Linked DNA regions of Homo sapiens. The protein of the gene in region 1 purifies or fractionates together with the protein of each later gene. This does not show direct contact. Each region holds a gene or a part of one and is shown in the gene's direction. Other genes may lie near its edges.

Region 1 (3,500 bases):
AATTTCATTTATATGGATCTATTTATCTTGTGATTTTCCTGATAGGCAGTAAGTTTTATTCCTTAGTAGCATTTTAGACTAATTACAAATACAGATGCTTGTTATTGATATGTTTATTTATATTTCCTAAGAGTTTAAGTATAGATAATGGGTCACATGTTTTAGAGTACAAATTTTAGACTTTAAATGGAACCTTAGCAAGTGGAATCTAACCCTCTTGTTTAAGTAACTAAGATAGGCCCAAGTTAGGTTGAAATGACTTAGCTGTCAAACAGTTACTTAGTAACAGAAAAGCAGATACTTTTTTAAATTTTTTTTTAAATTTTTATTTGTTTTATTTATTTATTTCTTTTTGAGACAGAGTTTCGCTCTTGTTGCCCAGGCTGGAGTGCAGTGGCGTGATCTCTGCCTCCCGGGTTCAAGTGATTCTTCTGCCTCAGCCTCCCTAGTAGCTGGGATTACAGGCACCTGCCACCATGCCCAGCTAATTTTTTGTGTTTTTAGTAGAGACGGGGTTTCACCTTGTTGGCCAGGCTGGTCTTGAACTCCTGACCTCGGGTGATCCACCCACCTCATCCTCCCAAAGTGCTGGGGTTACAGGTGTGAGCCACCGCACCTGGCTGCGGATATTATTTCATATTTTTTGGAAGCTAGAAACAATTTTTCTCATCAGATGGCTTTATGAATAAATCTTGTATTCCACTTTGGTTTAATATTCAGCCCTTTCCAGCTGGTAATCTGAGGCAGATTTTCAATAGCATATTCTCATGTGTACCTTGTACAAACTTTCAGTAAATCCCTGCTCTTAACAGAAAATGGCTTGAAGACTTAACTGTGTATGTCACTTTAGCCCTGTGTTTAATTTTTGTGTTCTTGGGACTATATCAAGTTTCTGTTTGATTGTCCCAGTGCAAACTAGTCTCTCTCTCTCTCTCAAGTTGTTTTGAGTACCTGGATTGCCCATGATGTTTCCCCTATACAAAGTGATTAACCGTTTTTTGAAGTTGAACAGGAAATGCTATCACATTTTGCATACAGCCACATATTCTAGATTGAGCAAGGAATGTGAATTTGATTTAATGACTTGGAAACTGCTTGATGAACCTCCTTATAGGCTGCTAAATAGTAAATGAGAAAAGAGACTGTTGGTGTGATGTTTTTTAGCGTTAATTTTTCTTGTTGACTCTTGAAGTTTGTAAATGAAAAGCTTCCCCACACTTCCCAAATTTCTAGTGCTTTATAATGGCCTCACAAAAAGCATTTTCTGTTTGCTAGTCCATTTTTCTGGATTAAATTTGAAGGTGGCTTTTTATTTTTGTGTATGTGTCTGTGAGAAAACTGTCAAAGCCAAGCAGTTTGTTTCTTGTTTGTATACGGCAGTTGTAATATTGAGATATAATTACAGATTTTGTTGCATTAGTATTTATATAATATTTGACAATGAAGTTACAGAATTCTTAGAGCTTATAGTAGAAAATCTTGCCCCTTCTAATATTCTTGAGAAGTGATAAAACCAAATCTCTTCATTAATTTATAACCTTTCTGAGGGTCATGAGCTGATTTTATGGGCTTATATTTAAAAGTTGACTTTTCAGGTGGGGCGCAGTGGCTCACGCCTGTAATCCCAGCACTTTGGAAGACTGAGGAGGGTGGATCACCTGAGGTCAGGTGAAATCCCATCTCTCCTAAATACAAACACTTAGCCAGGCATGGTGGCGCATGCCTGTAATCCCAGCTACTTGGGAGGCTGAGGCAGGAGAATTACTTGAACCTGGGAGGTGGAGGTTGCCGTGAACCGAGATCGTGCCGTTGCACTGCAGCCTGGGCTACAAGAGTGAAACTCTGTCTCAAAATAAATAAATAAATAAAAGTTGACTTTTCAGATGGGTTGGAAAACACCCTATGTTATTGACCACCTTAATTTCAAAGTAGTATGTTTCCCAGGCCCAATAATTCGGTTTGTGTCACTTTCCAAAGGGCTGCCCTTGAATTTGCTCTTAGAAGCCTTTGGAACTGAAATACTGAAATTTGAGGGGAACATTTCTTTTTTGATTATGTCAAAACAGGCATGATCTAAGGAGATCACAGAGATCCTGTAGGAGTTGTGTAGGTCCAAGACTGTAACAACCACTGAGTAATTCACACTCTGGTTCTAAAACAAAAACAAAAAATATTTTTATTGTCAGCCCTCTCCTAGGGGAAAATAATACTTTAAAAAATTTTATTAAATAGAGGATTTGGTTATGAGTCATTGGACCTGAGTTTTAATTAAAATAGTCACAGTGAATGGGACTATAACCAGGTTCTACTTTTGGGGGTAATGAATCAAGGTAACTCAGATTTTAGCTGTCCTATTCAGTAGTTCTTTTGGCTTCTTAGTATGTCTTAACCTTGTTTATAATAAATAATTCCATATGTAGTTTTTTGTAATGTACAAGGCAGATTGAAAAGTTTTAGGATGAATAAAATAATGGAACCAGTTCTCATTTAAGACTTGAATCTACTTTTAGTCTTAAGTATTATTTACAATTCATTAGTATTCTAGTTTTTTGCTTCTGTTGGATGGATTTTGAGACTGAGCTCTATAAAATCACACTCTTGATAATTCTATGAAATTATCAAGTATATAGGGAAGATGCTAAGCCAGTTTTAAATACTAACTTCTATATATTCTTTGCATGTTTTTTCCCTATAGATTGTTAAACTTTGTTTCCTGATTTGACTTAGACATTTCTTTTAAATCTTACTGAATGATTAGTGGTCTGAATGATGTATATGTATTTTACTGTCCTACAGTTGTTTTTTCTTGAACTTTTTGAGTCTTGGGACTGAACTGTTTCCAAAATTAATGCCTTCTGGAAGTTGAAATTGTCTACGTTTTACATTGTAAATGGCACGTAATGTTCAGTTTTTAGAATATCTAAATTAAAGACATTGCCTGTGATAGCTTGAGGGAATATTTGAGGGCCTAATATGGTAGCTGGTCATTCTTGTAGCTAAAAACTTGGTGTGATAAACAGGAGTCTGACCTGGCCGTTGCCTTTTCTCATCTGCAGGTGTGTGTGGTTTCAGCGCAGCATGGCTGTGGTCATCCGTTTGCAAGGTCTCCCAATTGTGGCGGGGACCATGGACATTCGCCACTTCTTCTCTGGATTGACCATTCCTGATGGGGGCGTGCATATTGTAGGGGGTGAACTGGGTGAGGCTTTCATCGTTTTTGCCACTGATGAAGATGCAAGGCTTGGTATGATGCGCACAGGTGGTACAATTAAAGGGTCAAAAGTAACACTATTGTTGAGTAGTAAGACGGAAATGCAGAATATGATTGAACTGAGTCGTAGGCGTTTTGAAACTGCCAACTTAGATATACCACCAGCAAATGCCAGTAGATCAGGACCACCACCTAGCTCAGGAATGAGTAGCAGGGTAAACTTGCCCACAACAGTATCCAACTTTAATAATCCATCACCCAGTGTAGTTACTGCCACCACTTCTGTTCA
Region 2 (3,500 bases), on another chromosome or scaffold:
TTGTCACCCAGGCTGGAATGCAATGGCGTGGTCTCGTTTCACTGCAACCTCCACCTCCCGAGTTCAAGCAATTCTCCTGCCTCAGCCTCCCGAGTATTTGGGATTACAGGCATCTGCCACCACACCCAGCTAATTTTTGTATTTTTACTAGAGTCAGGGTTTCACCATGTTGGCCACAGTTGTCCCGAGCTCCTGACCTCAGGTGATCCGCCCATCTCAGCCTCTCAAAGTGCTGGGATTACATACATGAGCCACCATGCCCAGCCATAGTTTTTTAAATGTATGTTTGATAGTTTACTGCCAGCTGTAACCCACCTGTTTTATTTTAGGCAGGATTATAATTGCTCATTAGCAAAATTGAGGCTCGAAGAGTTGATGTATTCACTGGTTATATTTTGGCAAAACTAGGATTTAAAGTAGTATCACCTTTTTGTTACCCAACCATGAAAGTCTGCTACCTAGCTGGAGGCTGAGGTGGGCAGATCACCTGAGGTCAGAAGATCGAGACCAGCCTGACCAACATGGTAAAACCCCGTCTCTACTAAAATACAAAAACTAGCCAGGCGTAATGGCGGGCACCTATAATCTCAGCTACCTGGGAGGCTGAGGCGGGAGAATTGCTTGAAACCAGGAGGCAGAGGTTGCAGTGAGCCGAGATCGCACCACTGCCCTCCAGCCTGGGCAACAAGAGTGAGACTCTGTCTCAAAAAAAATAAAATAAAAGAAAGTCTGCTACCTATAACACTAACCTGTGCTTTCCTGTGGAATCAAGAATTCAGCAGAAACTCACAAGTCATCCAAACTTTGTTAGGTTCACTTTTCCAAAGAGCATAAATATTCAAAGAAAATCTCTTCCAGCTGCCCATTTTTTATGGATATAATTTTTGTACAATATTCTGGTATCAAGCAGTGTACACAGTAGATGATCAGAAAGTACCTTTTAACTGAACTCTTTTCCCCTACTAGACTCCACGCAGGGCAGAAATCCTTTTGCCTGTGCACATGTTACGGTTTTGATACATATTGGTTGAATGAATGAGCAAACAAATGTACTTCCTGTTAGAAGGCTTATGTTATGCAAGTCTCTTTTTGATAAAGTAGTCTCTAGAAGAAACAAAATATATTTAAGACATACCTTAGATTGATTTATTTTTAAAATATTGTTTTGATCCTTAGAGGTTTAGAGTGAAAATCTTTCCAGAGTATTCCTCAGTATAGATGATACAATTAAGTGTTAAAATTCTCATGACATTTTTCTAAATCTAAATTTTAGGCAAGAGAACACCTTGGAGGGGAATCCTATTATTTGGGCCGCCTGGAACAGGAAAGTCCTACTTAGCCAAAGCTGTAGCAACAGAAGCCAACAACTCAACATTTTTTTCAATATCTTCCTCTGATCTTGTTTCTAAGTGGCTAGGTGAAAGTGAAAAGTAAGTAGTAAATCAATTTTTTAAAGTTTTTTCTTTGCCTGTAATTACTGTATCACTCCTTAATAGATTTCTTACATCACTTATAGATATTCAGAGAAGTCATGTAATACAGGTACTCACTTCTCTGTCAAATCAGTCTCTAATCTAGAATTTCTTTTGTGGGAAAAGATAGCATATATCTACAACCTAGTGAATCATAAAGTGAATTATCCAGTTGTAGCATTCTTATTTTCTGTACCTGAAACATGATTAGGCTTTTTAATCTACAGAGTTCTTGTAATATTGATATATTACTTTGTTTTAATCTTTTACTATTTTTTAGAGACTTAAAAGTTTTCATTTATTTTTAGACTGGTTAAGAATTTATTCCAACTTGCCAGAGAGAACAAGCCCTCCATTATCTTCATTGATGAAATTGATTCTCTCTGTGGTTCAAGAAGTGAAAATGAAAGTGAAGCCGCACGTAGAATTAAGACGGAGTTCCTAGTGCAAATGCAAGGTAGTGTTACTAATTTTTTTTTTCTTTTTGAGACGGAGTCTCACTCTGTCGCCCAGGCTGGAGTGCAGTGGCGCGATCTCAGCTCACTACAACCTCCACCTCCCAGGTTCAAGCAATTCTCATGCCTCAGCCTCCTGAGTAGCTGGGATTACAGGCGCGCACCACCATGCCCGGCTAATTTAATGTTACTGATTTTTAAAGTCGTTTTTGTTTATTTTATAACAATTTTTATAACAGTAATGAAAAATTCAAGCAGAATTTCTCCATTCTAACAAACTGTTTCATTTTGCCATGTTTCATTCCAATTGTCTTCCATATGCATACATAATTTTTACTCAATTGTAATTATCTTGTAGGACTCACTGACATAAATAGAAAAGAGATTTAATGTATTCATTTATAATGTACCAGGAACAACTTCAGTAAAAGTAATATGTAGACTTCGAATGAAATTTTTCAAGAAATATTTTGAAACGAATGTTAATAGTATTTTCCACAATCTGGGAGATTTGATTCATATATTTGCATCATATTGCATCATAGTGTATTTGGATCATATTGCCGTAAGGTGATATTTGATTAAATACAGTTCTTTTCCAAAGACAGACTCTCAAGATGAAGCACTTTAATGGTAAAGCACCACATTTCTTAACAGAATATATGGAAGAAGTTTAAAGAACACCAAAATGACAAATTAATTAAAGCATTACCTATTTTAATGCAGGGGTTGGTGTAGACAATGATGGAATTTTGGTTCTGGGAGCTACAAATATACCCTGGGTTCTGGATTCTGCCATTAGGCGAAGGTAGGATAATATAGTAAATATCTTATTTCTCACTGCAGATGTAACAAGTAGATGATAATTCTCTTTTTGTCTTGTCAGGAAGCATTCTAACAACTTTTCAAAAGATTTGTAATGTGCTCTAACCCTGTTGCTCCCCTGCCTTGAGTGGGAGAAGGGTGGTCATTTGCTTGTTTGTTTCCCTAGTTTATCAAATATACAAGATTTCCACACACTTCTGTCTTTCATATTAGAAAATATATTACCTAATGCTTACCTTTCATTCTGATTAAGTTTGGTGGGCACTGATGCTTCAAAAATTTATAAACATAGTTTGACAATTCAGTAAAAACCATTTATATAAAATTTTAGCAAAATGGCAATTCTATAAGTCAAAATAAGATAACCAGGTAAGATTTTTTTTTTTTTTTTGAGTCGGAGTCTCACTCTGTTGCCAGGCTGGAGTGCGGTGGTGCGATCTCGGCTCACTGCATCCTCCACCTCCCGGGTTCAAGTGATTCTCCTGCCTCAGCCTCCCAAGTAGCTGGGACTACAGGTATGCACCACCACGCCCAGCTAATTTGTATATTTTTAGTAGAGACGAGATTTCATCATGTGGCCAGGATGGTCTCGATCTCTTGACCTCATGATCCACCCGCCTCAGCCTCCGAGAGTGCTGGAATTACAGATGTGAGCCACCGTGCCCAGCCAAGATTTTTTTTTTTTTTAGTAAAAACTATATGTCAGGCCGGGTGTGGTGGCTCATGCCTGTAATCCCAGCACTTTGGG
Region 3 (3,500 bases), about 10 Mb from region 1:
ATGTAATTTTAGGTATAGGTAAGTGGCATTTCTCGGCCTACAAACAGTTAAAATGAAAGATTAAAGTAGTGTTTAAAAACGATGACTGGTAGCTCACTAGGTATAAATATAGTTTGACACGGTCCAGATCACTTAGTGTAAGTTGATTAGGCTCTGTCAGTGATAAGGAGAAGGCTCCCATCGCTTTCTGGCTCTGGATTAGTACTGAATAGACTTTTTGTGGAGCTTAATTGCATAGAAGGCGGGAGACAGTGACTTGTGGCAATGTGTGTCATGGAGTGTAGAAGGAATTTGTTTACTACAGAACCAAGTGATCTCTTAAGATCCCCATAAGTTCTAAAGTTCTATAATTCTTTTACATTTGACATTTTCAAAATTGAGCAAACAGACCTGTGTTTGAGTCGTAGGTACTGGAGTGAGAAGGAAATCCACGATCCACGTTGAGAAGCCTGCCCACTGTTCATGGGAAGCCAAGTTTCCCTGGCAGTTAATTCATTAAGAAAGTACCGTGTGACATCACAGGCTGGGAGCTTGAGAGATGTGCTAGCTAATCCTCACATCCTTACAGCAGATACAGTAGTGGATTATCAGATTGCTCTGTGAGCAACTCCCCAGAAGCCCCCTCAGACACAGTGGAGTGGACACTGTGACACTGTCAAGGAAACCAAAGACCAACCTCAGCGTCTGGCAGGTGGGAGGCCCCTCAACATCTCTCCTCCCACAGGACCTCGGTTCCCCTGGATGGTATCTGAGACTGCTCAGCTCACCAGCAGGAGCCAGCAGGTCCAGCCCAGGGAGGTGGCCCCTTTGTGTCTGGAGGGGCTGGGAGCCCCCGCTCCAAGGCCTGGCTGGTGGAACGTGGTGCCCACTGGCCTCTGGCTGGCTCAGTGGCCTGTGTTCCTGTGTCTTATCAGGGCCAGCTCTGTCCATAGTGCCTGGGTGGCAGGGAGGGACACTCTGCCCTGTGAGTCACTCTGTGCCCATGTAGGAACCAGTAGAGGGCGGCTGGTCTGAGGCATGCTGGCACCGACAGAATCGAATACACAAAAGGAGAGTTGCTGTGCTTTCCTGGGGACAGGAGGGGACCGGTTTCAGACCAGATCTGCCTGTAGAATGAGGCTCTTCATCTTGGTGAAAGCAGCCGCCCAACTCTTTTTTTTTTTTTTGAGGTGGAGTTTTGCTCTTGTTGCCCAGGCTGGAGTGCAGTGGCGCGATCTCTACTCACTGCAACCTCCGCCTCCCGGGTTCAGGCGATTCTCCTGCCTCAGCCTTCCGAATAGGTGGGATTACAGGTGTGCACCACCACGCCCAGCTAGTTTTGTATTTTTAGTAGAGACGGGGTTTCATCATGTTGGCCAGGCTGGTCTTGAGCTCCTGACCTCAAGTGATATACCTGCCTCAGCCTCCCAAAGTGCTGGGATTATAGGCATGAGCCATCACACCTGGCTCCAGCTCTTTCTTTTGTTTCCCTGAATGTTGGGAAAGTTCTTTCTTTTTCCACCAGAGTATTAAGACACTAACGTTAAATGAAGACTCTAGTTAAAAATCCCTTCAGAAAAGGGAGAAAAAATTGGTGGTCTCCACAGGCCCAATTCTGTGAATCTCTGTCTGTAAAGAACAAAATGAGGCTCTGCCAGTTGGTGTTACACTCTCTTTTCAGAGTCTGTTAACTCCTAAGGTGTCTTTAGGTGATTGGTATTTGGTGTACTGTTCGTGTTGATCATATTTTCATCTATTTTTGAGCTTTATGTTTTTCTATTATTTGCCTGGTTGTGTAGGCTTTGCATGTGATAAACTCTGTTAAAAAAAAAAAAGTGGAGGGCCTGGCTTGAACCCAGGAGGTGGAGGTTGCAGTGAGCCAAGATTGCACCATTGCATTCCAGCCTGGGCAACAGAGCGAAACTCTGTCTCAAAAAAAAAAAAACAAAAACAAAAACAAAAAACAGGCTGGCTTTAGGCTACTTAACACTTGTTATGTCATATTGCAAGAAGGGACCATGGTAGAAAGATCAATGGCCCAGTTCAATCCCAGGCGGCAGGGCCTCCTTAGAGCAGAGCTGCTGAGCAGGGAGGTTAAGGGATCGTGTTGGCATTTTCAGGCTGAAGCAGGTGAGTCCAGTTCTCCAACCAGCGCTCCCTGAGCAGGGAAGCCCTGTTCATGGTTGCACAAGAGGAGCCAGAGGGGAGTGAGTGGAAAGAGGCTGTCCTGCAGCAGCAGGATTTGGGGTCATGGAAGAGCTAGGTCCCTAGGCTGTTGCTTGGACAAAGCCTATGCCTTTACATGGTTTTTTTCAGAACTGCCACTTGGCAACTTTCTAGGCTTTGCATTTCTCCTTGAAAAGTCTGGTATGGTGAGGGGAACCAGCCTTGCCTGAGTCCTAGCCTAGCCCTGTGCGAGCCCACAGGTGAATGTGGTCCTCTCAGAGGCTGAGTGACTTGCCCAGGTCACCCAGCTAGCCAGGGCAGGGAGCTGGGATGAGACCCCAGCCTGTACCATTCAAGTCTGCATTTTCTTGGCCAGCTCCTCCAGCAAGCCTCTTTTCAGTTTCATGGTTTTCACTCTGAACCATATTAAGGTAAAAGCAAAATAGACACATCTCAGCAAATGATGAAAGTTCTTAAATTGAAACAAGTTGCAGAAAAACCTCAAAGCAGCAAAACACATTGCAGTCCCCAAGGACAGAGCCTGTGGCCCGGCAGGCCCTGGGCAGTGCCTTGGGGGCTGTGCTTCAGCAGGAGGCTGCAGAACCCTCGATGTCTGCATGCAACCTGGACAATTGGAGACGCACAGGCTTCGAGTCTAGGCCCAGCACTTCCCGTGTCAGTCCTGTCCCTTACAAACAGAGATAATCAAGCTCTTGGGACATAACTGGTAAACTTTTTCCCCACAGTAGAAAAGTTCTAAGTAGAAGTTAGGAACTTTTGCAGAGAGAGCAAACTACAACCTAAAAATCCACATTTTAGCCAGGTGTGGTGGCATGCACCTGTAGTGCCAGCTGCTTGGGAGGCTGAGACGCGAGGATCACTTGAGGCCAGGAGTTTGCAGCCAGCCTGGGCAACATAGTGAGACCGTCATCTCTTAAAAAAAAATATACATTTTTAGTTAAAGGCAAAGTAAAAACATTCTGGTCATGTTCCTGGCCTGTCAGCTTTTTATAAAACCTCTTGTTAATACTTGACCCACAGTATTTTCTCAGATAGCCAGGGTCTAGTTGGGCTCAGTATGATTTCGCACTGGTTAATAAACCCTGCCTGGACAGTGCCTGTGGCTTCCTCTGCCAGAGGGGGGAGGCAGGTGCTATGGAAACCCCATAGAATATTAAGTTCGTTCAAATGTAGTGTAAATAAAATCCAGCATGATGAAAGTCCACAAGAGGCCTGACTGTGAGTGACAGCAGCAGTAGTTGTACTTATAGCGGCTATGAGGACTCATTAATTATGCTGCTGTAATTCCTGTGACGTAAAGGACTTTGGAATTTATACAGTAATGTAGAAGCCTA
Region 4 (3,500 bases), on another chromosome or scaffold:
GGCGCCATCTTGGCTCAGTGCAGTCTTCCCCTCCTGGGTTCAAGTGATTCTCCTGCCTCAGCCTCCCAAGTAGCTGGGATTATAGGTGCCCGCCACCACACCCGGCTAATTTTTGTATTTTTTAGTAGAGATGGGGTTTCATCATTTTGGCCAGGCTGGTCTCAAACTCCTGACCTCAGGTGATCTGCCCACCTTGGCCTCCCAAAGTGGGTATTATATGCGTGAGCCACTGGGCCCAGCCTAAAAATTTTTTTAATTTTTAGGCCGTAGTCCCAGCTACTTGGGAAGCTGAGGTGGGAGGATTGCTTGAGTCCAGTTCAAGGCTGTAGTGAGCTGTGATTGGGCCACTACACTCCAGCCTGGATGACAGAACAAGACTCTTTCTCTCAAATAAAAAACAAAACAAATCTGAAGCCTGTCTCTTAGTGTCCACTCATAAATTATAAAATTTAAACATAAAAAAATGTGGAGCAGTATACTGTGTACTATTACATTTTTGGACTACTACATTCCACTGGACTGTTTTTTTTAACCTTTCTGAATCTGTTGCCATATTTGTCAAGTACCTACTCTACTTAACTCCCGTAGTTGTGCAGATTACATGAGATATACGTGTTAAAATGTGTGATAAATTGAAAGAAAAAAAACCATAATTGTTATTTTTTTTGTTGTGTAGCTGCCTATGTAAGTGTTGTATTTTTTTGTTGTTTGTTTTTTCCTAGTGTAGCTTTGACTGGAATGATGGTTTGTTTGATGTGACTTGGAGTGAGAACAACGAACATGTCCTCATCACCTGTAGTGGCGATGGCTCGCTGCAGCTCTGGGACACTGCCAAAGCTGCAGGGCCACTGCAAGTCTATAAAGAACACGCTCAGGAGGTAGGAGGGAAATCTTTCTGGGCTGATTATTTTTCTTTCTTCGACTTTGGTTGAAATCCATTTGGGGATGGACACATGGAGAAATATCTTCAGGGGACAAGTTTAAACGTTAGCATTTCTTATACATACTAGATGTCACTTATTATTTGATTATTCAAACATAAAGTACCTCTTGGCCTAAGGAGTGGGGAAAGAAAAGAAAAGGTCAGTCTTCTCATTAGGCAGAAAGAACACCTCCAGCAGTGTACTCTGGCACCATTTCCTCCTGAGAGGCCCATCACTTTCTTTGTGCTCTAAGAATGTGCTTGCCACATGGTGCCTTAAGGTAGAGGTAGGTGGACTTTTCACATAGACATCACAAGATTGCCTTTGGGGCTTCAGTGAGATTCCCGAGGTGTTTCAGAGTATATTGGAGCAAGAGCATAAAATACTGAGTATGAGGCAGAACTTACTGAAGGGATTTTATATCTAAATCTGGTTCATGTGTCTAGATTTTGTGTGTGTGTATGTATAGCATAGAAAATAGTTTGGGCTTCAGTTGTACTAACATACATGTATATTTTCAGTGAACATAAAGACATCCTCTTTTTGTGTTTTTACCTTAAATGTTTTAAGATTTTCCTTAAGGGAGCAGTACATCCTTCAGATGAAAACTTGCTAATCTACTTTCAAATTTTTGTCCACCACAGTGCCTGGCCCGAGAAGGCCCTCAATAAATGCTTATTAGATGCAAGAATATCAGTCTTTTGTGGTAAAGATTAGTTATGTGAGGGGTCCAGATGTTTTATAGCTGTAGCTATTGACAATCAAGATTTCTAAGATTGTTACTGAAATAATGAAAAATTTTAGTTTCTATTTTAATTATGATAGCTATTTGAATAAATGTAGTTGTAAATTACTATGTTTTCAGGGAATTACTGAATATTAAGACAATTTTGGTAAAGGAGAAATTTTAGTTTCAGGATAATCAATGCACGAATCTCTACAGAACAGTATGTCCAAAATTCAGATACTTTTGTGGAACCTGTGTGAATTTGTGTGTGTGTGTGTGTGTGTGTGTGTGTGTGTGTGTGTGTGTGTCAGGGTCTCACTCTGTTGCCCAGGCTAGAGTGCAGTGGTGCAATCTTGGCTTACTGCAACCTCCACCTTCTGGAATGGGCTCAAGCCATTCTCATGTCTTAGCCACCCGAGTAGCTGGGATTACAGACGTGCGCCACCGTGCCCTGCTAATTTTTGTATTTTTAGTAGAGACGGGTTTCACCATGTTGGCTAGGCTGGTCTTGAACTCCTGGGCTCACATGATCCACCTGCCTTGGCCTCCCAAAGTGCTGGGATTATAGGCGTGAGCCACCGTGCCCAGCCAATTTTTGTGTGTGTGTGTTTTTTTGTTGTTGTTTTTTTTTGTAGAGATGGAGTTTCGCTATGTTGCCCAGGCTAGTTTTTGTGATGTTTGACATCTTTTTATACCACTTGTATTATAATGTATTTCTTTTCCTTCTTTCTTTTTTAAAAAATATTTTTCTTTTCAGAAGTTTTTTTTTTCCTTTTTCTTAAATCTTTGGTGCCTTTTATTATCTATATAAATTCAAGGATGATAACTGACATCATAAAATAATATAGCTAGTTAAGGTAAATTCAATATATTGACTTAATGTTTTTCTTTCAATCAAGTAAAGTCGTTGCTTCATTTATCCTAAAACAGTAATATTCATGAAACAATGGGGTTGATGGCTACTTTAGTATGTACATTTATTTGTTTTTAGTGTACATTGAGATAAGTAAGTAATGAATAAAATAAATGTATGTACCAGTTAAAATAATCTCTGGTGTAACTACTCTCTGGAAAATACTGTTCTAGGATATCCTGGATGGATGCTCACTCAGTCTTTACTTCCTGTCAGTGAAAGTAAATTTCACTTTCTCTTGAGATAACTTATTTGACTTTTAGGTTGTTCTGATTATTAAGAAACTGCTTCTTGTAATCCCAACTCTACCTTCTATAGCAACCAACTGCTGCTTTTAGTGTCTTTCTCTGAAGTGGCAAGACCAGGTCCAGCCCCTCTTGTCCAGGAAACCTCTTGAAAATAGCCATCGTGCTCTCTTCCAGACTGTGCACTTGTCATTTCATTGTCCTGTCCTCAGATGACATGATCTGTACGTCTTTCATCCTTCTGATAGCCTCCTTTGATAATCCTGTTTTTCAACTCCCCTTTCAACATATACCTAATTTATTCCAGAAATGTGATGAAGGGCTAAGCTTTATAAGATTTTACCACCATAGTCTTGAGCCCCTAGCTCTAATAATATTACCTAAAGTGGCTATACATTGTTCTCAGCCATGTCTTAGTGTTAGGTTACTTTGAGTCTGCTAGTAACACACTTACCTCTTTTGTTATTTGAACTGCTATTAAACCAGTTTTACATCATTCTGTGATTTTGCAGCTGATTTCTTGAACCGAAGACACACTTCTGTTTTTTAATTTTTTAAATTTGTTTTGCGTACTGCTATTCTAGTTAGACTTCCTCGTTTTCTTTTCAAATGCACTTTTTGGTAAGCGTTTGTATCAGGATGCCTTGAATGTTAGTGTAATAGAAAACAATTAAATGGCTTCAACAGTCAGA

What was found. Proteins that work in one complex are often made in the same cells at the same time.
Region 2: the proteins of CPNE1 (region 1) and VPS4B fractionate together in Homo sapiens (co-fractionation; one large-scale study listed by BioGRID). This does not show direct contact.
Region 3: the proteins of CPNE1 (region 1) and PYGB fractionate together in Homo sapiens (co-fractionation; one large-scale study listed by BioGRID). This does not show direct contact.
Region 4: the proteins of CPNE1 (region 1) and PEX7 purify together in Homo sapiens (co-immunoprecipitation; one large-scale study listed by IntAct). This does not show direct contact.

Annotation. Positions count from the first base shown.
Region 1 is NC_000020.11:35,654,901-35,658,400, reverse strand, and holds part of CPNE1 (copine-1), read left to right. Parts: intron 1-3,056; exon of another isoform or gene 3,057-3,078; coding exon of another isoform or gene 3,079-3,500. Other genes in the region: RBM12 (RNA-binding protein 12), read left to right, coding at 3,079-3,500.
Region 2 is NC_000018.10:63,398,477-63,401,976, reverse strand, and holds part of VPS4B (vacuolar protein sorting-associated protein 4B), read left to right. Parts: intron 1-937; exon of another isoform or gene 938-1,130; intron 1,131-1,273; coding exon 1,274-1,430; intron 1,431-1,780; coding exon 1,781-1,929; intron 1,930-2,653; coding exon 2,654-2,735; intron 2,736-3,500.
Region 3 is NC_000020.11:25,254,585-25,258,084, forward strand, and holds part of PYGB (glycogen phosphorylase, brain form), read left to right. Parts: intron 1-3,500. UniProt on the Homo sapiens protein: Glycogen phosphorylase that regulates glycogen mobilization. Phosphorylase is an important allosteric enzyme in carbohydrate metabolism. Enzymes from different sources differ in their regulatory mechanisms and in their natural substrates.
Region 4 is NC_000006.12:136,825,592-136,829,091, forward strand, and holds part of PEX7 (peroxisomal biogenesis factor 7), read left to right. Parts: intron 1-727; coding exon 728-878; intron 879-3,500. UniProt on the Homo sapiens protein: Receptor required for the peroxisomal import of proteins containing a C-terminal PTS2-type peroxisomal targeting signal. Specifically binds to cargo proteins containing a PTS2 peroxisomal targeting signal in the cytosol.